7 linked regions of the Homo sapiens genome follow. Changing the gene in region 3 together with the main gene of any one other region gives a genetic interaction. Each region holds a gene or a part of one and is shown on either strand. Other genes may lie near its edges.

Region 1 (4,564 bases), on a different chromosome or scaffold from region 3:
AACTCTGTGTCCTAATCTGAACTCCAGATCGTTCCCTGTCTTCATGAGCTCTTCACCTTTGTGCACAGCTGCACTTTTGTCCAAGTCAGAACCCTGGGAGAGCAGCTCAGGAGGCTGAGGTGGGAGGGGAGGTCAAGGTTGGAGTGAGCCAAAGATAGCACCACTGCACTCCAGCCTGGATGAAGAGCAAAACCCAGTCTCAAAAAAAAAGGAAAAGAGAACCCTGAGAGTTATCCTCCACATTTCCACCTAACCCTTCACTCAGCACATTCCATCAGTCACTTAAGCTCTGCTGAGTCTGTCCTTTTTTTTTCAATAATAGGGGGCGGGTCTCACTACGTTGTCCAGGCCAGTATTGACCTCCTGGGCTCAATCAATTCTCCCACCTCTGCCTTCCAAAGTGCTGGGATTACAGGCGTGAGCCACTGTGCCCGGCCTTAGGGGTTCTTAAATGTGAGTGTGTATCAGAACTACTTGGGAACTTTCTAAAAAGAAGCTAGATCTGAGAGAATCCCAGAGTCTTTTTTTTTTTTTCTTGCTTTGTTGCCCAGGCTGGAGTGCAGTGGCACCATCGCAGCTCAAGCAGTTCCCCCACCTCAGCCTCCCGAGTAGCTGGGACCACAGGCGTGCGCCATCATCCTGGCTAATTTTTGTTTTGTTTTTTTTGAGACAGAGTCTCGCTCTGTCATCCAGGCTGGAGTGCAGTGGCGAGATCTAGGCTCACTGCAACCTCTGCCTACCGGGTTCAAGCGATTCTTCTGCCTCAGTCTCCGAGTAGCTGGGACTACAGGCGCGCGCTACCACACCCGGCTAATTTTTGTATTTTTAGTAGAGACGGGTGTTTCACCATATTGGCCAGGCTGGTCTCCAACTCCTGACCTTGTGATCCGCGCCCCCACCCCCCCGGCCTCCCTAAGTGCTGGGATTACAGGCGTGTGCCACCGCGCCTGGCCTGTATTTTTTTTTTATAGAGACGGAGTTTCGCCATTTTGCCCAGGCTGGTCTCGAACTCCTGGGCTCAAGCGATCCACCCGCCTCGACCTCCCCAGTGCTGGGATTACGGGAGTGCCCGGCGCAGCTCAGCGCAGAGACTTACAATGCGCCACAGATAGTCCTGAAGGCAATTCTGATGCACGTCAGAGGACCAGGCCCTAAGAAGAACTGCGCTAGAGGCGTGGTACAGAATAGTGTACATGCATTTAATCCTCGTAGCCCCCCTGTGAAGTATGTACCCCAATTTTAGGAATGGGATAAACTGAGCCACTGCCAGTGGCAGGATCCCAGGAACACTCTACTCTGGCCTCACGTCCCGCATCCGTCCATTGCATCTGGGCACATATTCCGTGGGCCCCTTGCCTGCGAGAGTGCAGGTTGGGGAGCCACTACCCGTCCCCCTTCTGGGACAGCAGCAACCCCAGGCAGTTCCACAAAATGCTTCCACCCAGGAAACTGGGGGAATTCAGGGCTCTCCCGGAACCTTTGCACCCGGGGAAGACAGGTGCGGGGGAACTCTAGTCTCGAAGGACCTAGGGCTGCAGGGGGACGTTTCACCTGAAGGACTGCCTCGTTTCAACAACAACTTTATGGCTCCCGGAAGTGCCTCCTCCCCGTCCCCTTCCTTTCCAGCCTCACGCCCGTGGGCTGCAGTTGGAACGATGGCGGCGGCAGCTGCCGCCGGGCCTAGCCCGGGGTCTGGACCTGGGGACTCCCCAGAAGGGCCCGAGGGGGAGGCTCCGGAGCGTCGGCGGAAGGCGCACGGGATGCTGAAGCTTTACTACGGCCTCTCGGAAGGGGAGGCGGCGGGACGCCCCGCGGGGCCCGACCCCCTGGACCCGACTGATCTGAACGGGGCGCACTTCGACCCGGAAGTTTACCTAGACAAGGTGTGTGCGCACGGGGAGTGGGGGGGTGCGGGGAGGGGGGAAGGGAACCAGGCCCCTGCTATATTGCTCCCCCAGATCATGCCTCCGACTTTTTGTGAGGTTCAGGAGAGCAGGTGTTCATAAGAGGACGAACCTCGGCCAGGGAGTACGAGCAGCTGAGGCGTCTGAGGGGATGTGAGTAGGACTGGACTGGCCTGAGGTGATGCGGCATCTGAGGTCTTCTGGGCTGATGTGATAGGCCCGGAATTGGGGGCGTGGCCCAAGCGTTGACAGGCGCGGGGCTGGGCTTAGGCCGAGCCCCAGGATTTCAAATGCTGACAAACACCAAACACGGTTGAACCTAGTAACCCCTGAGCTAGGCCACTTAGGGCCCCCTGCCTGGGATTCCTGACAGCCGGCGGGGGTTTGCGGGGTGGGTGGGGATCAGAGATTTCTTGCCCTGAAAGCCTATCAGCTGCAGGCAAGGCTGGGGGACATGAATGCCTCCTGACCCGAACACTAACCACCCAACTTCTTCAGCTGCGTAGAGAGTGCCCTCTGGCCCAGTTGATGGACAGTGAGACGGACATGGTGCGGCAGATCCGGGCTCTAGACAGCGACATGCAGACCCTGGTCTATGAGAACTACAACAAGTTCATCTCAGCCACAGGTGATCCCCACGGGGACACACCCTCCAAAGTCTCACAGCCCCCATTCTCCCACCTGTGTTGGGAAAACCAGCAAGGGATTTAGAGGGGGGAGACTCAGATTCCAGTCTTGTCCTGACATTATTCCATTCTCACCTCCTTTCCTTTGAGCCTTCGTTGTCAGACTACTATAGAGATAATAGCTACTCTCAGAGGGTTGTCTTAAGTACCAAAGGAGAGAAAAGACAAAAGGAGATTAGTTGTTTATTTTTTAGAGACAATGTCTTGTTCTGTCTCCCAGGCTGGAGGGCAGTAGCATGATCATGGCTCACTGCAGCCTCGACATCCCAGGCTCATGTGATCCTTCTGGATCCTACCAAAGCACTGGGATTACGGGTGTGAGTCCCTGGCCCAGCCCAAAATGAAATTTTAAAATGAAATGTATTTATCTGAAGCACTTAAAAGGCCAGGCATGGTGGCTCATGCCTGTAATCCCAGCACTTTGGGAGGCTGAAGTGGGAGGATCACTTGAGCCTAAGAGTTTAAGATTGACCTGGGAAATATAGTGGGACTCCATCTCTACAAAAAAATAAAAAATAAAAATTAGCTGGACAAGATGGCGTATGCCTGTAGTCCCAGCTACTCAGGAGACTGAGGAGGGAGGATCACATGAGCCTGGGAGGTCGAGGCTGCAGTGAGCTGTGCTTGTACCACTTCACTTCAACTTGGGCAACAGAGCAAGACCCTGTCTCAAAAAAAAGAAAGTATCTATCTGAAGAAGCATCCCAGACACTAGGCTGGGCACAGTGGCTCATGCCTGTAATCCCAGCACTTTGGGAGGCCGAGGCAGGTGGATCACCTGAGGTCAGGAGTTCGAGACCAGCCTGGCCAATATGGTGAAACCCCATCTCTACTAAAAATAAAAAAATTAGCTGGGTGTGGTGGCAGGCACCTGTAATCCCAGCTACTCAGGAGGCTGAGTGGGAGAATCACTTGAACCTGGGAGGTGGAGGCTGCGGTGAGCCAAGATCACGTCACTGCACTCCAGCCTAGGCAGCAGAGCAAGACTCTGTCTGAAAAAAAAAATAATAAGAAGAAGAATCCCTGACATCAAGGAAACCTCAGTAAGGTGTAGTTTCTCTTATTATTGATAGCTTTCTTTTCTGCTCCAGGGAAGAATAGGTGGTCTTGTCCCTCCCTTTCTTTCTCCCTTCCTTCCCTCCTTAACTAAGCAAAGAGAGAAGATGTATGATATTAGGGGACACAAAGATCATGTCGAGGCTTTTTTTTTCTTCTGTCCTCTTTATTCTCTAGTGCCAGACAGTGTTCCACTGTTTTCCACACTAGCTTCTGTGCTGTTTTGAGGAGATGTACTACTCAGACTTTTGTAGTAATTGTACACCCACGTGTAGTAAGTCCAGGAGCCAGATCCAAAGGGTTTACCTGCAGCCTGTGGAATGTTCTGGGAGCATCTGTGGGGTTGCATTCTGATGTCTTACTCTCGTGTCACAGTGGTGGGTGTGGTAACCTATACACATTGTTCTTTTATCTGATTTGAAGCAGATTCCATGAGTAGGCACCTTTCTGTTAGCTAATACCAGCATCAAAATGGCAAGAAATCATAGTTTCTGTGCTGGGATATTTCTCACAGGAATTTAATAAGATTACATTTTCCATTTGTTGGAATGTGTATAATAATATTTTGAGACTTAGCTCTTTTTGTACATCCCACAAAAGGAACAAACGTTTGGAAAAGTGTGAGGATAACCAGGAGCATTGATGTCTTAGAAGCTTAAGTGAGGGGCCGGGCATGGGGTTCTCACCCGTGATCCCAGCACTTTGGGAGGCTGAGGTGGGTGGATCACTTGAGGCTAGGAGTTCAAGACCAGCCTGGCCAACATGGTGAAACCCTGTCTCTACTAAAAATACAAAAATTAGCTGGGCAAGGTGGTGCATGCCTGTAGTCCAAGCTACTCATGAGGCTGAGGCAGGAGAATTGCTTGAACCCAGGAGGTGGAGGTTGCGTGAGGAAGGTGTTTCAAGACATAGATTTGA
Region 2 (3,861 bases), on a different chromosome or scaffold from region 3:
CCCAGTGGAGTCACCTGGACAGCTCTCTTCGCCATACATACTTCTGTATTATATAACTTTGTATTAGTTTTCTTTCGCACCATAACAAATTAACAGAAACTTAATGACTTAATACCGATTTATGTATTTTACTTTTATTTTTTATTTTATTTTTCTGAAACGGAGTTTCGCTCTTGTTGCCCAGGCTGGAGTGCAACGGTGCGATCTCGGCTCACTGCAACCTCTACCTCCCGGGCTCAAGCGATTCTCCTGCCTCAGCCTCCCGAGTAGCTAGGATTATAGGCATGCACCACCACACCCAGCTAATTTTGTATTTTTAGTAGAGATGGGGTTTCTCCATGTTGGTCAGACTGGTCTTGAAGTCCCGGCCTCAGGTGATCTGCCTGCCTCGGCCTCCCAAAGTGCTGGGATTACAGGCGTGAGCCACAGCACCCGGCCTAACAATACCAATTTATTAGCTCACGGTTTTGTAGGTTAGAAGTCCAGTGCTGTGTGCTTGGTCCTTGTATTAGTCCATTGTCACACTGCTGTAAAGAAATGCCTGAGAGTGGGTGATTTATAAAGAAAAGAGGTTTAATTGGCTCACAGTTCTGCAGGCTCTAGAGGAAGCGTGGCTGAGGAGACCTCAGGAAACTTGCAATGGTGGCAGAAAGCAAAGGAGAAGCAGGCACATCATGGCCAGAGCAGGAGAAAGAGAGGGGGGAGGTTGGTATACACTTTTAAACAACCAGATCTCTTGAATACTCTTACCACAAGAATAGTGCCAAAGGGGGAAGTCTGCCCCCATGATCCAGTCACCTCCCACCATGCTCCTCCTCCAACATTGGAGTTTACAATTTGACATGCAGTTTGGGTGGGGCCACAAATCCAAACAAGGCAGAAATCATGGTGTCAATAGAAATAGAACTGAGTTCTCATCTGGAGGTTCTGAAAGAAAAGCCACTTCCAAGCCCATTCTTATTGTGGGTAAAGTTCATTTCCCTGCAGTTAGATGACTGAGGCCCCCATCCCCCTGCCAGTTGTCAGCTGGGAGCCTCTCTTGGCTCCTAGAGGCCACCTGCATTCCTTGTCACATGGCCCCCTCCATCTCCAAGATAGCAACAGCACATCAGATCCTTCTTGTGCTTCAGATCTCTGACTTCCTCCGTCTCCGACCTCTACACCTAGATTTAAGAGACTCATACGGTTGGGTGAGCCCAGCCAGGTAGTGTATATTAAGGTAAACTGATTTGCGGCCTTACATCTGCAAAATCCCTTTTGACATACAAGGTAGGATGATCATGGGGGTGATACTTGATCCTAGCCATAGGTTCTGCCCGTAGTCAAGGGGAGGAGACTCTGCAAGGGCAAGGGTCACTGGGGGTCATCTTAGAATTCTGCCCATCCCAGGCCTCAACCATGAACTCTTTGAAAATGATTTCTCAAATCTACTCTGATTTATTATACTTCCCATTGTTTTTCTGCTAAAACACCTTCCCCTTCCATGTGTCCCCAGTCCCGTCATTGCCTCTGGGCCAGCTGTCCATCAGCATTGTCTTTCTTCCACCTAAGCTCTGAGCCTCCAACATCTCCAACTTCTTTTTTACATTATTCTGTTTTGCTGTTAGCAAAATAGAAGGCTTTGCTGTCTTCTGAATCTGTCCTGGATTTCACTGATAATTGCCCTAGTTCAGGGCCCCATTTCATCATGCCTGTTTGACATTTGTCTCCTAACTGATTTCTCTACCTCCACCCAACTTCTATATTTGATTTATCTCCGCCAGTCAATTGTCCAATACACGCTTCATCAGCAGTGCAGATTGGGAGAAGAATTCTAACATGCCCCAGCAAGCTGTATGCAGTAGTATGCACCTATAGTCCTAGCTACTCAGGAGCCTGAGGTGGGAGAATCGCTTGGGTTCATGAGTTCAAATCCTGAACTCACCAGCTTGGGCAACATAGTGAGACCCCATCTCCAAAAAATGTGCCACAGCAAACTCACAGGAGTGCTGCAGGATATTTTAAATTTTTTAGGGAAACACAGAGACATCTTGTCAGAATACTAATACATGGTTTGACCCTAACTAAATAAAAGGAATTCTTGGCCGGGCACGGTGGCTCACGCCTGTAATCCCAGCACTTTGGGAGGCCGGGGCGAGTGGATCACCTGAGGTCAGGAGTTCGAGACCAGCCTGGCCAACATGATGAAACCCCGTATCTACCAAAAATACAAAAATTGGCTGGACATGGTGGCGGGCACCTGTAATCCCAACTACTAGGGAGGCTGAGGTAGGAGAATCACTTGAACCCGGGAGGCGGAGGTTGCAGTGAGCCAAGATCGTGCCACTGCACTCCACCCTGGGCAACAAGAGCAAAACTCCGTCTCAAAAAAAAAAAGAAAAAAAATTTAAAAGAAATTCTTGAGTATTTCTTTTGCCCTGTGTTTGCCATGAACCAAGAAAGTTTGGGAACCTCTGTCATGTGACCTTTGACCAGTCATTTCACTCTGGGTCCAACTTCCCACGTCTACAAATGATATGGGTAGAAAAGAGGATCTCTCTGGGGTCCTTTTCTACTGTGTGTGCATTTATGTAAAATGTCAGACTCAGCTTTGCACCCACTGCAGGCTTCCACCCCCATCTAAGGCCAACTCTGCCTGTCTTTCCTATCCCACCATGCCTCTCAGATCAAGACCTCCTGGCTACACCTGCACTTGAGCCAATATTCTCCACTTGGCTCACTGTTACACGTCCTCTGTGAAGCCCTTCCTTACCACGCAACACATAGTAAACACTTGGCTCTGCTGTTTATATGACACTTCTAAAGTGTGTGTGTGTGTGTGTGTGTCCGTGTGTGTCCATCCATCATTCCCTGTCTAGGCGAGCTTTTAGAAGAGAGGAATTGTAAGTCGTTGAGTGACTGCTGTGCGGCAGGCTGTGCAAGGGAAGGGACTATGTCTTTGTCTCTTAAATGGTAAGATTTAGTGCGTACCTACCCACTTTCTAAGCAAGCAGACTAGGGAGTTCCTTCTCTGCCAGAGGAGGTCCCAGCACCTTGGGCATTTGGAGCTTGCTTCTGTTTCTCTAACGGGGCTCTCCTGCAGCACTGTAATGGCGTTGACTGGCGTCAGAAGCTGGACTCTCAGCGAGGGGCTGTCATTGCCACGGAGCTGAAGAACAACAGCTACAAGTTGGCCCGGTGGACCTGCTGTGCTTTGCTGGCTGGATCTGAGTACCTCAAGCTTGGGTGAGATTCCTGTGCAGGAGCTGGCAGCTGATCTTGTGAAAGGAAGGGTCTGGGTAGGGAGGTTGACCCTCCCCTCCCCGTGTACTGGACAATTGACTGGCAGAGATAAATCCAGGGGTGGGGTAGAGATGGAGGGGTCAGTTAGGAGACAAATGCCAAACAGCAGGCATGCTGAATGGAGTCCTGAACTAGGGCAATGGTGTCAATGAAATCCAGAACTGAGAACTCAGAAGACGATGTTTTCCCTTTCCCTTGAAAATAGCAGTGGACTGCCGGGCGCGGTGGCTCATGCCTGTAATCCTAGCACTTTGGGAGGCCCAGGCTGGCAGATCACGAGGTCAGGAGATCAAGACCATCCTGGCTAACACGATGAAACCCTGTCTCAACTAAAAATACAAAAAATTAGCCGGGCGTAGTGGCGGGCGCCTGTAGCCCCAGCTACTCAGGGGGCTGAGGCAGGAGAATGGTGTGAACCCGGGAGGCGGAGCTTGCAGTGAGCCAAGATGGCGCCACTGCACTCCAGCCTGGGCAACAGAGCCAGACTCCGTCTCAAAAAAAAAAAAAAGAAAAAATAGCAGTGGACCAGGTATCACCATTTAATTGACATTTGATCCCAAGTGTTGCTGTCTCTGTGCT
Region 3 (3,861 bases):
TTTCTAATAGCATCTTTCTACAGCTATTGTGCTGATTCCATTTGTTTTGTTTTTTTGGTTTTGAGATGGCGGTCTCGCTCTGTCACCCCAGCGGGAGTTCAGTGGCAAGATCTTGGCTCACTGCAGCCTTGACCTCCTGGGCTCAAGTGATCCTTCCATCTCAGCCTCCTGAGTAGCTGGGACTACAGGTGCATGCTACCACTCCCAGCTAATTTGTTTTTTCTTTTGAGATGGAGTTTCACTCTGTCACCCAGGCTGGTGCAGTGGCACAATCTTGGCTCACCACACCTCCGCCTCCCAGGTTCAAGTGATTCTCCTGCCTCAGCCTCCCAAGTAGCTTGGATTACAGGCACGCACCACCACATCTGGCTAATTTTTATATTTTTAGTAGAGCCGGGGTTTCACCATGTTGGTCAGGCTGGTCTCAAACTCCTGACCTCGTGATCCGCCAGCCTCAGCCTCCCAAAGTGCTGGGATTACAGGCATGAGCCACTGCGCCCGGCCCTGATTTATTTTTTCTTTTTGAAACAGTCTTGCTCTGTTGCCTAGGCTGGAGTGCAGTGGCACAATCTCCGTTCACTGCAACTTCTGCCTCCCAGGTTCAAACTATTCTCCTGCCTCAGCCTCCCAAGTAGCTAGGATTACAGGCATGTGCCACCATGTCTGGCTAATTTTGTATTTTTAGTAGAGACAGGGTTTCTCCATGTTGGTCAGGCTGGTCTTGAACTCCCGACCTCAGGTGATCTGCCTGCATCCACCTCCCAAAGTGCAGGGATTACAGGCATGAGCCACTGCGCCTGGCCATATTCCACTTTAACACACACAGTCCTAGTGCAGAAGAAGAAGGTGAATGTGTGTATGTATATGTAATTTTTAAAATAAGCTCCCAAGTTATCCAAATCAACATAACACTCCAGTCACTGGAACATTTTCCCACAATTGTTAATAAAACAAAAATCGGCTAACACAATATTCTGAGAATATACACTAGCTTTTCCTGGTCTTTTCTATTTGCTTTCTCTTCAAGCCTCTTCCTGACTGATTACCAAGGACCAGTGTCTGCAGGTACCCAAGGTCCTGCCCTATTAAACTTTAAGATGAATTCTGGCACAGCACACCTTTGGCTCGTGGCTCAGAGGCTGACCAGAGAGCTCTGGCAGCGAGAGCTTTGGCAGCAAGTCCTTAGGCAAGCCAGGCTACCTACAGAGCATAGATTCACTCCTTGTTCAAGTGACAGCATCTCCAATAAGTCTATGTGAACAAGATTAGGACAAAAAGCAATAAAGTAGCATTTTTTTTTAAAGCATTATCACTTTTATCCAGTGGTCACAACAGGGAATGAGTCCTCTCACTGTCTAGAAAAAGGAGGAAGTTAAAACCAGAAGAGTTTTATGTCTTAAATTCCCCTGCTGACAGTCTTGACAGGGACTCGTGGAACACTGCGACATTCTAAATATCTATCAAAAGTACTGATGTGTACCAAAACACATTGTGCCTAAAACACATGAGTATGTGTTCAATACAGACCGGCTAAATTAATGAGCAAATGAATGATAATCCTGAAGGGCTACCGCAAATACCAAGATGAAAAATTAAATACCGGAGTCGAAATAATTATGCATCAAACATATAAAGTAATTGTATTAAAAACCTCAGAGGAATCAACACAGGCTGGTGAGGTGAGTACCCATCCCAGTGTTTCAAGTACAAGGTGGTCATGCCACCCAGACTCACTACTAGGATTCTCCAAAAAGCATCAGATATACCTACAGTCTCTCCTCAGAACCTCAAAAATACTCTCTGGATGCCAAATCTTAGAGCACAAGTAGTCAGTTAAATACTGGGGCAAACTAAATCCCAATCACACTGCCATCTTTATCAAAACCAACCCTGAAACATGCACTTAAGTGGAACAGAAGCCCAGGAACTGCTACCCAGCTTTTCCCAATAAAAGAGGGGAAATAACACCTGGGCCTAAAGACCAAACATATTGTCAAAACACAGGAGAAATGCCAAATTCTTATATCTGACTTACGTAGGTAAGCCAGGTAGAACAAGAGAAAATGGATTTAAACTAGAAAATTACACTACTTGGAGTCTGACTATAAGAATCTGCTAGACTACAAAATGAGTTGGGTTGAAAGAGATAAGGGAATTTTCCCCCCAGAGTCTTTAAAAGGCAGAGAATGAAATAATGACCTTTTCAGCTACCTTTCTGACCTCTTATTCCTGAATCCTTTCTGGAAAATACAAAAGTAAATTTACTAAACAGCCATATAATTCTCTTTGGTTATATTTCAATTACAGGTACAGTAATGATAATAATTAAATAACAGCTAACATCTCTATATGGCTTATTCCACACCGGGTGGCGTTCCTAAGTCCATTACATATATTAACTCATTTAATCTTTGAACAAGGTAGATGTTATTATTTATTGCCCTAATTTTACAGATGATGAAACTGAGACACAGAGGATAACTTGCCCAAGGCAATACAAAACTGGGAAGTGGCAGGACTTAGATAACCCAGGCTAATCACAGAGCTTTTTTCATGGGTGAACTTGGATGGAAGGGCAGAACCAATGTTTAGGAGCATGCAGACACAAAAAGATCACATTCTCGCCTCTGGCCAACAGATGCCAAGGCAGCTCCAGGGCCATGTTCTGAGAGTGCCATCTGGACCACTCAACCACTAGTGTGTCTGTCACCTATCTCCAAGTCTGTTAACTTCAGGGGTGGAGCCCAGGAATGTGCAGCTCCCTCAGGATTCTCACACACTAAAATTTAGAGAACCTGTTGCTCCAACACCAATCTTGCTGTATCCCTCAAGAGACCACAACAAAAGAAGGTAGAAACATAATAACCAATAATGAGGCTGTTTTTTGAGACAGGGTCTGGCTCTGTCGCCCAGGCTGGAGTGCAGTGGCGTGATCTTGGCTCACTATAACCTCTGCCTCCTGAGCTTAAAGCATCCTCCTACCTCAGCTTCCCAAGTAGCTGGTACTACAGGCAGATGCCACCATACCTGGCTAATTTTTTAATGTTTTTGTAGAGTCAGGGTTTCTCCATGTTGCCCAGGTTGGTATCAAACTCCCGGGCTCAAGCGATTCTCCCATCTCAGCCTCCCAAAGTGCTAAGATTACAGGTGTGAGCCACCACGCCCAGCCCTATAATGGGGCTTTTTATTCCAAGTGTAGTTGATAGAATCTGTTTCTTTACTCTGCAACAATTCCCAAATTTATTCACATGAAGGAACACCTGGAAGTCAATTTCTTAAACTGTTGATAGACTTAATTCTATGGATCAACTAGGTACAATTTTACGTTAGGAAAACATGATTATGCTAATGCAAATTTTTAAAAATTACAACCATGTTTTCTTAGTGAATGTCTCCACACTAAAAAGATGACCACTTCTAGCCTTTTTCATCAGTGTTAATTTGCTGTGTCCATTTTACTTTATCCTCTGCTGGTGACCACTATCCATGGCAAGCAGGAACCAATGGTCTAAAAATTCCAACCAATAATTCTAAAGTTCCTCCAAATTATGAAGTCGACCACCTCTTTGGCAGGGTTTCTCACAAACTTAGCCTGAGAATCACTTTAAGGCAGGATTTGCTGCTCACCAACCACTACACATACTTCTCTCTCGCAGGGTTTCTTAACTTGGGGTCTGTGAACTTGAATTGGAAAATTATCCCCATATTTCCATTAACCTCTAGCTAAATTTTTTTGTTTCCTTCAATTACAAATGGGGTCAGGTGCTCACAGTGGTATGACTGTCTGTGACTTTGCCAGCAAGAGAATTTTTTTTTCCCACCACAGCACAGTTGTTAAGCATCTTGAAATGCTGTTTACCC
Region 4 (4,320 bases), on a different chromosome or scaffold from region 3:
CTTCTTGTAAGAATACGGAATATAATACATACAACACAAAAAATGTGTTAATCAACTGCTTTATGTTATCAATAAGGCTTCCAGTCAATTGTAAACTAACTACTAATTAAGTTTTTGAGGAGTCAGGTTATATGCAGATTCTCCACTGAGCAAATGTTCAGCGCTCTTAACTCCTGTGTTGTCCAAGGGTCAACTGTATATATATTTAAGAGTTATTATTTACCCAGTAGATCAAGCCAAGACCAAGTTAGGTTTATGTGTTTTTGGTTTAACCAAAGAAAATGTTCAGGGACTAAAGCAGTCCATCAATAGAACAGACTGCCTTTTAAACCAGGGAACAACTTGTCTTTGTAGGTATTTTAGGTATATGAATGACCATATGTATCTGCTTTGGGTCATCCATGGTCCCTTCCAACTTAAAACTTCTCTATTCATGAACATAGCATAACTGAGCTATGGATTTCATATAAATAATATCTTGTTGCGTACTTTAGGTTTGAAATGTTTTCTTTTTCAGTTGCATAGATATATGTAGCACCATCCCCGCTATGAACTCTGATGTAGAAAATACAAGATTCTAAAGTCATCTGTGAGGCTAAATAGACTTAGGCACTTCCACATAATGCTGCAAAAAGCAACAGCCGTAAAGGTACTACCTGCTCAACATGTCATTCCAAACAAATACACTATGATTAGCAGCTGAATTTAACAGTATCTTTCCGCTTTGAAAAACACTTTATATACCTTTACAAAGAAGCCATAGTATCTCAGGGTAGAAAAACCCAATAGGTAGAAAACATGGCCTTCTCTTAGAAATGAACTATGTAATTTTGAGTACTTATCTCAAAATCATCACAGAAACATATCTAGTGCTTGTGGAAAAAGAATCAAAAGATCTTTTTTTTTTTTAGCTAAAGGTTTTGAATTTTTCTTGTGACATTTAAGTCTTTTATTGTATGCTGATTTTTATGATTATCTAACTGTTTCATAATGGTTATTCTTGCCTCCATGAAAGGGAAGACTAGAACAAAAAACTGACAAGAACAAGTTCTAGCTCCATCACGGACTTACTGAATGACCCTAGGCAAATCATGTGGGCTCTTTCTTGTGTTTTAAGTTTTACCTCCAATGAAGTAACTACCTCAGACTAGCTGTGAAGCTCTCATAAGGTGATGGATTTGAAAATGCCTTGCAAAGTATCAGCAATTCATACACAGAAAATTTCACGTACTTCTATATATTGCATGATGCCCACCCAGGGTTAGGTTAACAGTTGTTGATCCAATTATGAAAGAAATAAAAAGAACTCTTTAAAATAATGAAGTAAAATAGCTAATTTTCCCGTTGGTTTACCATATGCTGTATTTAAAAGTTTTAAAAATTATACTAACTATATAACTAAACATATTTATGTTTATTATATATAATATGACATGCAATTATATAAGACATACTATTATGTTTATATATAATGCTTAATTAAGCAATTATATTTAAATATAAGTTATACTTTCCTTCCCCAGATAAGACAAAGAACCTGTTTACTTCTCTGAGGGATTTATTGGTTCCTGTGAAATCTGTGAAGGCCACAAACACTCCATAGCCAGAGAATGACAACATACGATTTTCTTCTCAGTCTTGTAGTATCCACAGTAGTGATGTCTGTCCATGTACAAGTGTCTGTCCAGAACACCCATTAAATTCCATGCCTGCTGTGTGTGTCACGGGGAAAGGGACAGAGACAGAAGACAGATTCACTGGTGGTACTTTCAAACAACGCGGTAGGCCTTCCCTTTGGGGTCTGCCATGACAACGATACCCCAGGTGGCAATGCCTAGAAAAAAAACAACAATACCTTACCTTTATGCTGCATTTAAATTTACCAAGTGTTTCACATATACGCCATCTTATTTAACCCTCACAACACTTCTGGAGGATATATTACCATTGTATCTTTCTTATAAGGCAAGTGAAGCACAGAAAAAGAAAAAAAAATCAGGAAAAAAAAGAATATCCTGTAGGAGAATTTACCTATACAGGATCAAGAAGGTAAGACAGTTAGAAACCTAAAATTCTATTCACTGACAATCGGTTTGAAAGCTAAAAAAATCATGACGTTTGATTGGATGACATCTTGACGATCACAGAACGGGGCTGTGGGCCACATTACCCAGGTGTACCAAGTAGGTGAGCTTAGAATCCACGTCTAAAGATCTGGGATTCAAGGCAAATTTCTTAAATTAAGGTCAAGGGCCCTCGCTCAGGCTTTCTCCAGGACCTGGAGAAAAAGTATGGGCTTTGAGATCTGATATACCTGGGATCAAGTGACTGTCATTTCCTGACCATGAACACAATACTCCTCGTTGCCTCGGTTTGCTCCACAGTAAATACTATAATCATACCTACTTCTAACAGCTATTCTGAGAATTAAAAGGGCTGAGTCTAATAAGGGTTCTCAAGAAATACTAACTTAAAATTAAAAAAAAAAAAAGAAAGGCGTTCCAACAACTTCCTCTCCCACCTTGTTTGAGGTGCCCCCACCACCTGACCAGCGGCAGCACCCCGCCTCCCCGCCTCCCCGCCCACGTGGCTGCTCCGTTTCCTTCCTCTACCCCGCAGATACCCAACCCGCCCAAGTGCTGTGCCTTGATTCTCACTGAGGCCGATGACCATCTGCGTAATGGTCCATGGACTCGGGGGGTATCCCATCTTCATGGGCTTCCGTGCCACCCAGTACACGTACCCGCCCGCCCCCATCAGCCCCAACCCAGAAAGCACGCGACAGCTCCAGCAGGTCTTCAACAGGCGGTGTTCTGCTGGGGAGGTCGGCGCTCCGGGTGTAGCTGGGGGCGCAGGTTTGGCGGGCGCGGCGGCGGTACCGGGAGGCGCAGTGATATAGGACTCAAAAGGCTGGGACAACCGAGACCCCATGCTCTGGAACTCGGCCTCAACCTTGGGCGTCTTTGGTTCAAACTGGCGTAAACGACGCACCGGAAGGCAGAGCGCCGGAAAGCAGAATGCCGGGACGCTAGCGCAGTGCGCGGAGGAATCTTAAGGGCTGCTGGGAAATGAAGTTCTCCTCCGCTTCAGAGGCGGAAAAGGTGAAAGAATGCTGCTCTTTCCTGCTGGATTTCTCTGGCAGCAACAACCTTGTATGCGCTGGAGGACAATTCCAGCCCTCCTCCCCGCCGCCCCCCCCGCCCCCACTGTTTTAGAAATTCTGTAATCGCTACTCACTAAATGAATCACCTTTCAGTCTCCTTAAAGAAGTCTGGCTCTCTTAAGTTTCCTGCCTCACATGAACTGCGAGACCTTGGGCATGTCATATCTCCTATCCAGAGGCCTGTGAATCAAGGAGTTGGGTTTTATATGTGCATAATCATGTGCTAGATACAGACATACCATAGCGATTGCAGGTTTGGTTCTAGACCAACACAATACAGCAAATATCTCGATAAAGCAAGCCATGCAATTTTTTTTTGGTTTCTCCGTGCATATAAAAGTTGTTTATACTGTAGTCTATTAAATGTGCAGTAGCATTGTGTCTAAAAAACAGTATATATATCTTAATTTAAAAAACATCTTGCCCAAAAAATGGTAACGATTACCTTAGCCTTCAGTAAATCCTAATCTTTTTTTTTTTTTTTTTTTTGAGGTGGAGTTTTGCTCTTGTTGCCCAGACTGCCCAGTGCAATGGCACAATCTCGGCTCACTGCAACTTCCGCCTCCCGGGTTCAAGTGATTCTCCTGCCTCAGCCTCTCGAGTAGCTTGGATTACAGATGCCTGCCACCACGCCTGGCTAATTTTTTTGTATTTTTAGTAGAGACGGGGTTTCACCATGTTGGCTAGGCTATTCTCAAACTCCTGACCTCAGGTAATCCACCTGCCTTGGCCTCTCAAAGTGCTGGGATTACAGGCATGAGCCACCGCACCTGGCCACTTCTAATCTTTTTGCTGGTGGAGGGTCTGGCCTTGATGGTGATGGCTGCTGACTGATCAAGGTAGTGGTTGCTGAAGGTTGGGGTAACTGTGCCAATTTCTTAAAATAAGACAATAATGAAATTTTCTGCAAGAATTGACTCTTCCTTTTACGAAAGATTTTTTTGCAACATGCAATGCCGTTTTATAGCATTTTAATAACCACTATATAACGTCTTTCAAAATTGGAGCCCTTTATCCAACATTTTGACAATGTTCATAGCATCTTCACCAGGAGTAGATTCCGTCTCAAAAAACCACTTTCTTCATCCATAGGAAGTAACCCCTCATCTGTTCAAGTTTTATCATGAGATTGTGGCAATTCAGTCACATCATCAGGC
Region 5 (3,861 bases), on a different chromosome or scaffold from region 3:
GCATGTTTTCCATTCTCTTGCTCATGAATGCTGCACATATGCCATTGAGCAGATGCTTAAATTACTATAGCAATGAGATTCTGGCACAGGGCTAGGAGAGGATGTTTATAAGAGTGGGTAGTGTAAATAATTTTTTAAGCCTGTATATATTTAAAAATCTCTGTAAAAATGGTCCCGTGATGGGGGCTGGGCACGGTGGCTCATGCCTGTAATCCCAGCACTTTGGGAGGCCGAGATGGGTGGATCATGAGGTCAGGAGATCAAGACCATCCTGGCTAACATGGTGAAATCCCATCTCTACTAAAAATACAAAAAATTAGCCAGGCATGGTGGTGGACGCCTGTAGTCCCAGCTACTTGGGAGGCTGAGGCAGGAGAATGGAAGGAACCAGGGAGGTGGAGCTTGCAGTGAGCAGAGATCACGCCACTGCATTCCAGGCTGGGCGAAAGAGCAAGACTCCATCTCAAAAAAAAAAAAGTCCCGTGATTTACTATATCTGCTTATAGACATATATGATATAACTATTTCTTTTTATATAAAAATGCTAACATCAAAATTGCTCTTCATTCATTCAAACTGATATTAACTGTTTTTTTTACATGCCATCTATTGTGCTTAATACTGGAGGAATAAAGATAAAATACAATTCCTGTGAAGGAAAATATTTTAGATGTAACACATCATGATCAAAATGCTATGGGAACACAGAGGAAGAACACTAAACTTGGCTGATAGAATGTCAGTAACTTGCCAGGGAGAGAGAGGCTTTCTAGAGAAGATAAAGCTTAAACTGAATAAGCTAGGTGCAGAAGAGAAGAAATTAGGTAACTCATACTATCTTCTCTCCTTTGAACTTACCTGTTGCTAGGTAAATGGGGTGATTCTGGGCAGGGCTCCATGCCTGCATGGCTGTACGATCTACTTCCTTTAACTTCATCCTGCTAAAGGGAATATTTTATACAGAAACAGCCTTGAATGACTTGAATGTCTAACACAGAACACAGATATTTTAAATAGAAACATACTGAACAAACCACTACAACATTAGTAATGCCCAACTGCAAATAAATCAAATCGGTTTAGGTGTCATTTGTTGGATATATTCATTAGAAAGAAGACAAACTTGAGGCCGGGTGGCTCATGCCTGTAATCCCAGCACTTTGGGAGGCCAAGGCGGGCGGATCACGAGGTCAGGAGATTGAGACCATCCTGGCTAACATGGTGAGACCCCATCTCTACTAAAAATACAAAAAATTAGCCGGGCGTGGTGGCGGGCACCTGTAGTCCCAGCTACTCAGGAGGCTGAGGCAGGAGAATGGCATGACCCGGAAGACAGAGCTTGCAGTGAGTTGAGATTGCACCACTGCATGCCAACCTGGGCGAGAGAGCAAGACTCTATCTCAAAAAAAAAAAAAAAAAAAAAAAAAAAAAAAGACAAACTTGATAAACCATTTTGAGACAAATACTGGGCTATTCTGTTTACAGATTATAGTTCTTCAGTTGAATCAGTCTAGAAAAATAGCCCACAAAAATAATAAGGTAGTACCTGAAGAATTAACTTTGCTACACATGTGTTTATCCAACTAGGATGGATGACAAAACATTACGGGTAAGAGCAGCCAAAAAATAAATAAGGTGCAACTTCCTGGAGTAGGATTACTCAATGATAAGAGCAGTTTAAAAAATTAATTCAAAGTTACAACATATTAGAGAGAATATAGTAAGCCCACAGATTTTAAAGATAAAGTAGAAATTATTAGAAAACTGGTCACTTCAAGGTATAATCCCATATACCACTTGTTTACGTATTTTCTGTCATTAAAGTTACTTTGATGGAGTCAGGCATGGTGGCTCATGCTTGCAATCGCAGCACTTTGGGAGGACGAGGCAGTTGGATCACTTGAGGCCAGGAGTTCGAGACCAGCCTCGCCAACATGGCAAAACCCCGTCTCTATTAAAAATACAAGAAAATTAGCCAGGTGTGGTGGTGCATGCCTGTAATCCCAGCTATTTGGGAGGCTGAAGCAGAAGAATCACTTGAACCCAGGTGGTGAAGGTTACATTGAGCCGAGATCATGCCACTGCACTCCAGCCTGGGCAACAGAGCGAGACTCGGTCTCAAAAAAAAAGTTACTTTGATGGAAAAATTACAACGGTATAGTATTATGTACTTTTTAAAGATCTTTGTTATTTTTACATAAATATATTGAAATGGCATAGTACTGCACTATAAGATGTACCATAATTACCTAGTCTAATACCAACAAACACCTAAGCTGTTTTTAGCTATTTTTACAAAAAAGTGCTGAAATAAATGGTCATCTGCACGTTATTTCATTAAAAAGGGACAGCTATAAATTTCCAGAAGTAAAATTGCTAAGTTAAAAGGTTAATGCAATTTTAATTTTGATGAATATTACCAAGTTGTCCTCTATGGCAATTGTGCCTTTTCATACCACCAACAGTAATATACGATTACTTATTGCCCTACAGCCTTATCAGAGCATACTGTCACACTTTTAGATCATACCAACACTAAAAAATGAAAGGCCAGGTGCAGTGGCTCAGGCCTGTAAGCCCAGCACTTTAGGAGCCGAAGCAAGTGGATTGCTTGAGCCCAGGAGTTCAAGATCAGCTTGGACAACATGGTGAAATCCCATCTCTAGAAAAAATACAAAAATTAGCTGGGCATGGTGGTGCACGCCTGTAGTCCCAGCTACTCGGGAGGTTGAGGAGGAAGGATTGTTTGAGCCCGGGAAGTTGAGGCTGCAGTGAGCCGTGATTGCGCCACTGCAATCCAGCCTGGGCGACAGAGTGAGACCATGACTCAAAAAAAAAAAAGAGAAAAATAAAAATGTTAGCTCTGTATAGTAATACTATAAATGATGTATAACATCTTTTTTTTGTATGACTATGGGTAAACATATTTCCTTTTCTGTCATCTCTTCTGTCTAGTCATGTATTATTTGACCATTTTTCTTTTCTATTCTTTTTTTTTTTTTTTTGGAGATGGAGTTTCGTTCTGTCACCCAGGCTGGAGCACAGTGGGGCGATCTCGGCTCACTGCAACGTCTGCCTCCGGGTTCAAGCGATTCTGGTGTCTCAGCCTCCCAAGTAACTGGGATTACAGGCACACACCACCACATCAGGCTAATTTTTTTGTATTTTTAGTAGAGACGGGGTTTCACCATGTTGGCCAGGCTGGCCTCGAACTCCTGACCTCAGGTGATCCACCTTCCTCAGCCTCCCAAAGTGCTGGGATTACAGGGGTGAGCCACTGCGCCCGGCCATCATTCGACAATTTTTCTATTAAGTTGATAGACTATCTTTTGACTTTGCTTTTTTCAAAAAAAAAATTTCTTTTCACCTTTCATAGGATTTTGATTAAAAATAAAAAAAGCTATATGCTTTATCTTTTAGAGTTTTACGTTCCTAGAAAAGTTGAGCCACAAAGTACAAAAAATTGCTACACATTTCCCAACCACATAACCTTTCTCACCACCAACATCGCACATCATAAAGGTCTATTTGTTTCGATCCATAAACTAACATGAACACATCATTATCACTGAAACTCCACAATTTATATGAGGGCTCACTCTAGGTGTTGTATATTCTATGGGTTTTGACAAATGTATAACAACATGTATCTGTCATTATAGTATCACACAGAGTAGTTCCCTTGTCCTAAAATCCCCTATGCCTATAATTCCTCCTTTCCTTTCAATAGAGCCTATATAGTGAATTTTTGTGAATTGTTCTTGGGACCTAGAAAGAAGGGGTGCTCTCTGTTTTCAGGGCCTAGAGCTCAATATATATTAACTAAGTCCTCTTTATTGATTTGTTTAGATCTCCTATATC
Region 6 (3,861 bases), on a different chromosome or scaffold from region 3:
TAGAGATGAGGTCTCGCTATGTTGCCCAGGCTGGAGTTGAGTGGCTATTCACAGGCACAATCATAACACACTACAGCCTGGAACTCCTGGGCTCAAGCAATCCTCCTGTCTCAGCTTCCCAAGTAGCTGGGACTACAGGTATGCGCCACTGCTCCTGGTTCACAATTGCTTTTTAAAACGAACTTTAAGTGCTGGTTCAACAGGTTTGGCTTGTATTATTCTTGAGATAGAATCAACAATATATTATTGCAGATATTAAATTTCAGACATAAATTTATTTATTCTACTAATATTTAACAAGCATCATCTATGCACCAGGCTCTGGGCCAGGTGCTTGAGATACAGTGGTAATCAAGATGCAGTAGTTGACCTCATAGAGCCTAGAAATATCTCTTAAGCAGCCGGGCGTGGTGGCTCATGCCTGTAATCCCAGCACTTTGGGAGGCCAAGGTGGGCGGATCACGAGGTCAGGAGTTCGAGACCAGCCTGGCCAACATGGTGAAACCCTGTCTCTACTAAAAATACAAAAATTAGCCGGGCATGGTGGCGGGCGCCTGTAATCCCAGCTACTCCGGAAGCTGGGGCAGGAGAATCGTCTGAACCTGGGAGGCAGAGGTTGCAGTGAGCCAAGATTGCGCCATTGTACTCCAGCCTGGGTGACAGGCAAGATTCCATCTCAAAGGAAAAAAAAAATGTGTGTGTGTGTGTGTGTGTGTATATATATGTATATCTCATAAGCTAATCTTTATAAAACTAATTTCAACCTTTTCTGTTAAAAAAGTAGACCTATGGACTAAGACAACTAATTAAAATTTTAAGAAAAGGACATCCCATAGATGCAGCAAGTAACTCCATGTCTCCAGAATTATCAGCACCTTCCTGTCAAAAGGTTAAAAAACTGACACTGATTACTGAAGTGATAGAGTAATCTGTTAAAGGGAACAACATACTGCTCACTGAAAGAAGAGAAGGCTCTTCAGGTAAATGGAAAGGGTTTTTATAACACACTCTTAGCATCTAAGATCAACAAACCCTTGCTTAACAGGAACTTAGCCATTCTTTATCTCATTTTTCACATGTTCCTATTAATATGGGTTTTACTGCCAAATACTGAATTGACTGATGCTCAGAAGAATCAATGACCTTTAGAGAGGGTGTTGGGGAAAGCAGTTCCCATCAACTAGCCCTGAGTCAGTTTGCTTCTAAGATTTTCCTCCAGTTGCCTGCCAGTTGACATCTGGGTAAAATGCGGAGGGTTGTTGCTCAGAGCTACAGACAGGATTATAAGGCATGGGAAGGTCCAGCTTGGAGTCAGAAGAGCACATGTTACCTCAGGTCTGAAGCTATGTTCAGTACAAAGTATTCAATAGAAAGAACTGTACAGTTACTATCTGGGGACGTGAGAGCTGGGAGAAGAGGAGGAACGTGAAAAATGAGACCAAGAATGGCTAAGTTCCCGTTAAGGAAGGGTTTGTTGATCTTAGTTGCTAACAGTGTGTTATAAAAACCCTTTCCATTTACCTGAAAAGCCTTCTCTTCTTTCAGTGAGCAGTATGTTGTTCCCTTTAAAAGATTACTCTATCACTTCAGTAATCAATGTCAGTTTTTTAAACTCTTGACAGCAATCTCTGCCCAGCTGCTGCTCTTCTCAAAGCGGCTATGTGGCTTGTTACTCACGCTTCAGGTGTCTACCTCACATTAAATATGGACAGATTTGACTTATTAGATATCTGTCAAATGAAGCTAGCATGGCTGGTTACGTTATACTATTTTAAATATTGAAGCGCTATCATATTTATGCAAATATTCTTGGAACTGATTGATAGGGAAGAAGTTTTCAAATTAAATGAATAAGAAAATGCTAATATGAAGAGGACGCATTGGAATTAAGATATTTACCCTGTATAGTTTTTACTCCTAATTTTATCTTTAGTTTGAGAGAGTAATGTATTGGAAAAATTCAATCTAAGAGATCATAAATTCTAAGAGATCACAAGACACTGGTTTAGATAGCTGGGAATAGATTAGCTTACCTTACTCAGTCCTAAGTATGTCACCATGGACATAACTGGTGCTGCCAATGCAAAGACCAGCAAGTGCTTTCTGATTCGATTCCGCTCTAAGCCAGCATGCATCAAGAAGGAAACCAGTCCAAAAGCAGCTGGTGCCTGGAAATAAAAAATCATCTCTTATTATCATTCTAGAAGTATGGGTTGCTTCTACATCAAGAAGTATATGCCATTTGACTATGATTTCTCATACAAAGAAAAACTCACAAAAGGCCAGGCACAGTGGCTAATGCCTGTAATCCTAGCACTTTGGGAGGTCGAGGTGGGTGGATCACCTAAGGTCAGGAGTTCGAGACCAGCCTGGCCAACATGGTGAAACCCCGTCTCTACTAAAAATACAAAAATGTGTGGTGGTGGGCACCTGTAATCCCAGCTACTTGGGAGGCTGAGACAGGAGAATCGCTTGAACCCAGGAGGCGGAGGTTGCAGTGAGCCGAGATCACACCATTGCACTCCAGCCTGGGTGACAAGAGCAAACTCCATCTCAAAAACAAAAAACAAAAAACCCACACACACACAAAAAAAACCAAAAAACAAAACCAGGCAGAGTACAAACGCTGAGCTATGCCTCTTAGGAATTAATGTTCTAAGCCAAGAAAAGATCCTATTTGTGTGTTTCTTGGATAGTAAAAAAGAGAAACAGTCAAGAAAAGAAAAATACTTTTGAACAGAAATTATTACTATGAAATATAAAAATCTGAGGAGAATTTGACAATTTGTGTATATGTCTACACAAAAAAATTGAAACCCCTCAAGGAAAAGCTTAAGAAAATGGGAACAAGAAGCTATGAACAGATTTATTCAATTTTCCAAAATGAATAGCAATTATGAAATGAAGAAAATGTTCCCATTCCAGGAAAAACATTAAGGACCATGAGAAATTTTAATTATGAATACACTCAATACCAAACCTTACACCAAAATGTTGCTTACCTTATGTAGCATGATTGCCACAAACACAATTAACTGGACACTGGTCTGTGAAGTAGATGCTGCTGCTCCCAAAGCAACACCATCAGCTATATTTGGAAACAAGGAAACATAAAATACTATAAACAACAACAACAATAACAGTGTAGTGGTTGAGTGTATGAGCTTTACAGTCAGGTCCAGCTGGATCTAGTAATGTTACTTAACCTTTCTACATGCCAGCCTTATCTTTAAAATGTGTTCAATGAAGTATGTATTTCTTAGGGTTTTCATGAGGATTAAATGAGATAACTTATGTAAAGAGCATAGCATCTGGCCCAGAGTATTCAATGTTAGTTATTTTGGTTGCTGTTGTTGTTATTGGAAAACTAACATTCAATTTTCCAACTAATCAAAAATCCATTGATTAGTTAATCAAATTCTAACAAGGGAAATACCAAAGAAGAATTTCAAAGGAAGCATCTCTTAATCTTATAGGTTAAGAAACAAAATAGTCCCAGCTACTTGGGAGGCTGAGGCAGGAGGATTGCTTAAACCCGGGAGGTGGAGCTTGCAATGAGCCGAATCGTGCCAGTGCACTCCAGCCTCGGCAACAGAGTGAGACTCCGTCTCAAAAAAAGAAATAAATAAAATAAAGATACTAGAACTCTATATAGATGATTACTACTTAATAAGTAAACACTGGTTGAATGAATGAAATTTGTTAGAAAAGCATATTATACTTAGAAAGGGCCAGGTAACAGTGTACCACCTTTCACATGCCTTTCTTTGCCACTGACAGAATTCTATTACTAGGACTAGGTTTGGGTTATGATTCTAAAGTGTACCCTGTCAGCAATGCTAAGATCTCTGCATTCCACTG
Region 7 (3,861 bases), on a different chromosome or scaffold from region 3:
CAGGGGGGCCAAGACTGATGCCTCCCCATGAGTTTCCACTCCATCCTCGCTCCCGTTTAACCTTCATCTTCTTCTTTCGGTCCCACTCTTCTCTCTGCTGGATCATGTCTGCCTCCACCTTCTCCTGCTCTTCCTTGCTTCTTTGGGCAATGGTCTGCACTGCTCCATTTTTCATAAGAGGGACATTCAGTCCGGGCCATAGAAAACCATAACGCCCTGAAGGTTTAAAAATATAAATAATAATTTTGTTAAAGTACTCATTTTTCAAGTGTTAAAATGTCAGGCAATGCATGTACAGATAATGATGACACACTGTTCACTGGAGCTTAAGCTAACATTATTAACTTGGTAGGTCACTTGGCACAATCAAAATTTTAAATATACTTCATGGTATTACCTAGAGAAACACTCACATACAGGTACAAGGCATATGGATGCTTGGACAAGGACGTCCACTGAAACATTATTTGCAAAGGCAAGAAATGCAACTAATACAAATGTCCAGCAATTATGGACTGGTTAAATGAACCACAGCGTCTCCAGCATAGGAAACACTCTGCACTAAATCAAAAGAACAAGGTAACTCTCTAGGTTCTGATGTGGAATGATTTCCAAGACCTATTATTGAGTGAAAAAAGTAAACTGTAAGACAGCATGTACCATGTGATATAATCTAAATTTTTTTTAAAAAAGAAGATATCTATTTCTTTTTAGCTATTTATATATAAATTAATAACAATTTAATACATAATACCTTTTGTATTCATCTTTTTAGGTATTTATGTATAAATACCTAAAATTTAATACATAAATACCTTTTTAGGCATTTATGTATTAAAAAACTGAAGGAAACACACCAATATGAGGCCAGTGGTTTCCTTGAGGGAGACAATAGGATTGAAGAAGGTAGAAGAAGCATCCAGGGGGACTTCAAGTTTCTCTATAATCTACATTTTTTACTGAGAAAGTATAAATACATGATTCTTATAATTTAAAAAAAAAGTGTTAAAAAAATAAGATATAAGTAATAAAGAAAAATATCCAAGTAGACATGCGATGCTGGAAGTGTGGTGCCAGGTGTTTTCTTTATCCCTGAAGGCCATTACTATCAAAGATGGTTTGTCAGCAAGCACAGTACAAGACGGGCTGATTGAAGTACACTACACTATTTTTACTCTTCCAAAAGCATGAGTATAAACAATCACGTGTTCTGGGTGTCAACAAACTAAGGCCCACAGGCCAACTCAGTTCGTGACTTGTTTTTGTAAATGAAATTGTACTGGAACATAACGATGCCTATTCGACTGTGTGTTATCTGTGGCTGTTTCTGTGCTACAACAGTAGAGTTGAGCAGTTGCAAAACAGACTATGTAACTCACAATGCCAGAAACATTTACTATCTTCCCTTTGCAGGGAATATTCGCCAACTCTCCATTTAGTCTCTATTTTATCACTAATTATAACCTATTTGAGGGCAGGCACTATTATAGGAGATGACACCTAGGGACATTTAATGCTTGCTGAATGAATAAATCCATTTCTATGGGATTTTCCTCCCCCAGAATCCTGGGGCAATGAGTAAGTCAACTGGTTGAATTCTAAAACCATAGATCGTAGTGCCCTTCATAAGAAATGTTTTGATGCTTCTAGTTTGTAAAATATCTATAAAATCTGGGGTAAGAAACTTACAAAGCACTTTAGCTATTTTTATAAATAAGTTTACCTTCACCAATGATCTGACCCCTGTTCAGATCCTTTCTTTTCTTCTTTTTAGTTCTTTTGCCTCTTCCTTTTTTTGCTCCAGCACCAGTCTCTGCTAAAGCGCCTTTCCACAGCTCATCTGCAGTCACTGTAACGAAACAGGGTTTCTTTTCTTAATTCTGTAGTTTTCAAGCAATGGTCTATGATCTCCTATTGAATAATAAGAGAAGTGGAGGTCAGCTTACAGCTTTACCCATGCATCACTGAGGTAATGAAAGCAAAATTAAATCATCCTTTGCACACATCAGACGGTTACACTTGGAAAGCCCAAGAAGAGACAATTCTATTACTTTCCTCCACAAAACTCTCACTAAATATTTTATTTTTCCCTCTAACTGCTTAAAAGCCAGCATTCAAATCTCAGTTACTTACCAATAGGTTCGTTTCCCTGACATTTTATCAACCATGATATAGGCGTCTTCCCTGTCCTCTTGCCTCCATTATAACCACTAAGATAACTAATAACTATCCTTCCTAAGTATAAGTTTTCTAGTCCAAACAAGAATCAACATTTCAATCTGAACCCACAAATCTGGAACACAATCTATGGTTATAAAATCAACTGTTGGCCAGGTACAGTGGCTCATTCCTGTAATCCCAGAACTGTGGGAGACTGAGGCAGGAGGATCACTTGAGGCCAGAGTTGGAGGCCAGACTGGACAACATAGTGAGATCCCATCTCTATTAAAACTTCAAATATTAGCCAGGTGTGATGGCATGTGCCCATGGTCCCAGCTACTGGGGAGGCTGAGGTGGGAGGGTCACTTGACCCCAGGAGTTTGAGATTACTATAATCATGCCACTGCACTCCAGCCTTGGGGACAGAGTGAGACCCTGCCTTCAAAAAAATAATTGTTCCATTACCAATTTCTTTAATAAAGAATCGGAACCACAAAATGTTATAACAGTAAAAAATCTAAGACATATTTATATCTATATAACTGAAATACTAAACAAATTCTAGAAGATAAATGAGTACCTTCATTCTCTTATGAATGCTTAGAGTTTAAAACTTCTACCTACTTGCTTCCTGCAAGGTCTTACGCTGATCCTCCAGGTAGATAACACGAAAAGAGAAAAATGTTTTAGGGTTATAATACTTTTAAATGCTTTATATCTGTATAGCATCCAATTTTTCAAAAACACACACATATACACAGCTGGTCTTCGTAAGTGAGGCTCAGGGAAAGTGAGATTCCACATCACATGTTGTTTTGGACATCCCTGACCAGAACAAAGGATTCGGCTCAACTTTAAGCCAACTCTAATTCACTTTAAAAGACCACAGGCTCAAAATAAAAGTACCAACCTCCAACCAAACTCTCACTAAGGATTTGATTTTTCTCTCTAAGTGCTAAAAAATGGTGGTACCTATAAATGCCATGGAAAACTTGAAAGTTCACTTGTAATGGAGGCATACTAAGAGGCCAATCAATCACAGAGTTTTCTTTCACTTAGAATCAGAACCCTTAAATCACTCATTAAGATGAAAAGAGACTCAATTTTAAAAAGAACTTGACATTGAGACAAAAATGTAAAAAGACTGAATTAAGAGTTTAGCTCTTTTATATATATATAGTAAGAGGAAAATAAAATATCTAACTATATTTGAAAAAGACAGCAAGTCATTAGTCAACCTTTGAATGCCATTATGCTATTAAAAACGTTTTTAATACTTTTCAAATTATAAAATAGCTATTTTTAAAAATCTGGAAAATACAGAATGCAAAAATAATCATAATCCCATTACCATTGTTAGATAAGAATGTATATTCTGCCTTTTTCTTTATGCATGCATACATAGTATATATTTAAGCAGAATTATACCATATGCACATTTGTATCCTGTTTTTTTTAAATTTAATATTACATTGTGAGTCTTTTCCCATATTCTTAAATATTATTCATCAACATAATTGTGTAATGGCTGCAAGGTGAATTAAGTTCTTTTAACAGAGATTTTACTATTTTTACCTCAGGTCTAAGATTCTAAATAACCTAAAAGGCTAGTTAGAATACATCTACTATCATTTCAATTCTTTCTGTCATTTTTCCAGAAGGGTGCAGTTAGGTTAATATATACACCTATTAACTATAAAA

What was found.
Region 1: changes in DCAF7 (region 3) and VPS51 together harm fitness more than expected from each alone (negative genetic interaction), as found in Homo sapiens cells (one large-scale study listed by BioGRID).
Region 2: changes in DCAF7 (region 3) and EIF3D together harm fitness less than expected from each alone (positive genetic interaction), as found in Homo sapiens cells (one large-scale study listed by BioGRID).
Region 4: changes in DCAF7 (region 3) and DMAC1 together harm fitness more than expected from each alone (negative genetic interaction), as found in Homo sapiens cells (one large-scale study listed by BioGRID).
Region 5: changes in DCAF7 (region 3) and SEC31A together harm fitness less than expected from each alone (positive genetic interaction), as found in Homo sapiens cells (one large-scale study listed by BioGRID).
Region 6: changes in DCAF7 (region 3) and SLC39A9 together harm fitness more than expected from each alone (negative genetic interaction), as found in Homo sapiens cells (one large-scale study listed by BioGRID).
Region 7: changes in DCAF7 (region 3) and MRPS5 together harm fitness more than expected from each alone (negative genetic interaction), as found in Homo sapiens cells (one large-scale study listed by BioGRID).

The regions. Positions count from the first base shown.
Region 1 is NC_000011.10:65,094,596-65,099,159, forward strand, and holds the start of VPS51 (vacuolar protein sorting-associated protein 51 homolog), read left to right. Parts: upstream 1-1,618; 5' UTR 1,619-1,655; coding exon 1,656-1,883; intron 1,884-2,402; coding exon 2,403-2,532; intron 2,533-4,564. UniProt on the Homo sapiens protein: Acts as a component of the GARP complex that is involved in retrograde transport from early and late endosomes to the trans-Golgi network (TGN).
Region 2 is NC_000022.11:36,511,824-36,515,684, reverse strand, and holds part of EIF3D (eukaryotic translation initiation factor 3 subunit D), read left to right. Parts: intron 1-3,082; coding exon 3,083-3,225; intron 3,226-3,861. UniProt on the Homo sapiens protein: mRNA cap-binding component of the eukaryotic translation initiation factor 3 (eIF-3) complex, a complex required for several steps in the initiation of protein synthesis of a specialized repertoire of mRNAs.
Region 3 is NC_000017.11:63,553,230-63,557,090, reverse strand, and holds part of DCAF7 (DDB1- and CUL4-associated factor 7), read right to left. Parts: intron 1-3,861. UniProt on the Homo sapiens protein: Involved in craniofacial development. Acts upstream of the EDN1 pathway and is required for formation of the upper jaw equivalent, the palatoquadrate. The activity required for EDN1 pathway function differs between the first and second arches.
Region 4 is NC_000009.12:7,796,804-7,801,123, forward strand, and holds the start of DMAC1 (distal membrane-arm assembly complex protein 1), read right to left. Parts: upstream 2,976-4,320; 5' UTR 2,932-2,975; coding exon 2,658-2,931; coding exon of another isoform or gene 2,646-2,657; intron 1,835-2,645; coding exon 1,770-1,834; coding exon of another isoform or gene 1,633-1,769; 3' UTR 1-1,632. UniProt on the Homo sapiens protein: Required for the assembly of the mitochondrial NADH:ubiquinone oxidoreductase complex (complex I). Involved in the assembly of the distal region of complex I.
Region 5 is NC_000004.12:82,881,000-82,884,860, forward strand, and holds part of SEC31A (protein transport protein Sec31A), read right to left. Parts: intron 942-3,861; 5' UTR 938-941; coding exon 859-937; intron 1-858. UniProt on the Homo sapiens protein: Component of the coat protein complex II (COPII) which promotes the formation of transport vesicles from the endoplasmic reticulum (ER).
Region 6 is NC_000014.9:69,454,039-69,457,899, reverse strand, and holds part of SLC39A9 (zinc transporter ZIP9), read right to left. Parts: intron 3,089-3,861; coding exon 3,003-3,088; intron 2,169-3,002; coding exon 2,034-2,168; intron 1-2,033. UniProt on the Homo sapiens protein: Transports zinc ions across cell and organelle membranes into the cytoplasm and regulates intracellular zinc homeostasis. Participates in the zinc ions efflux out of the secretory compartments.
Region 7 is NC_000002.12:95,108,193-95,112,053, forward strand, and holds part of MRPS5 (small ribosomal subunit protein uS5m), read right to left. Parts: intron 1,850-3,861; coding exon 1,724-1,849; intron 217-1,723; coding exon 1-216.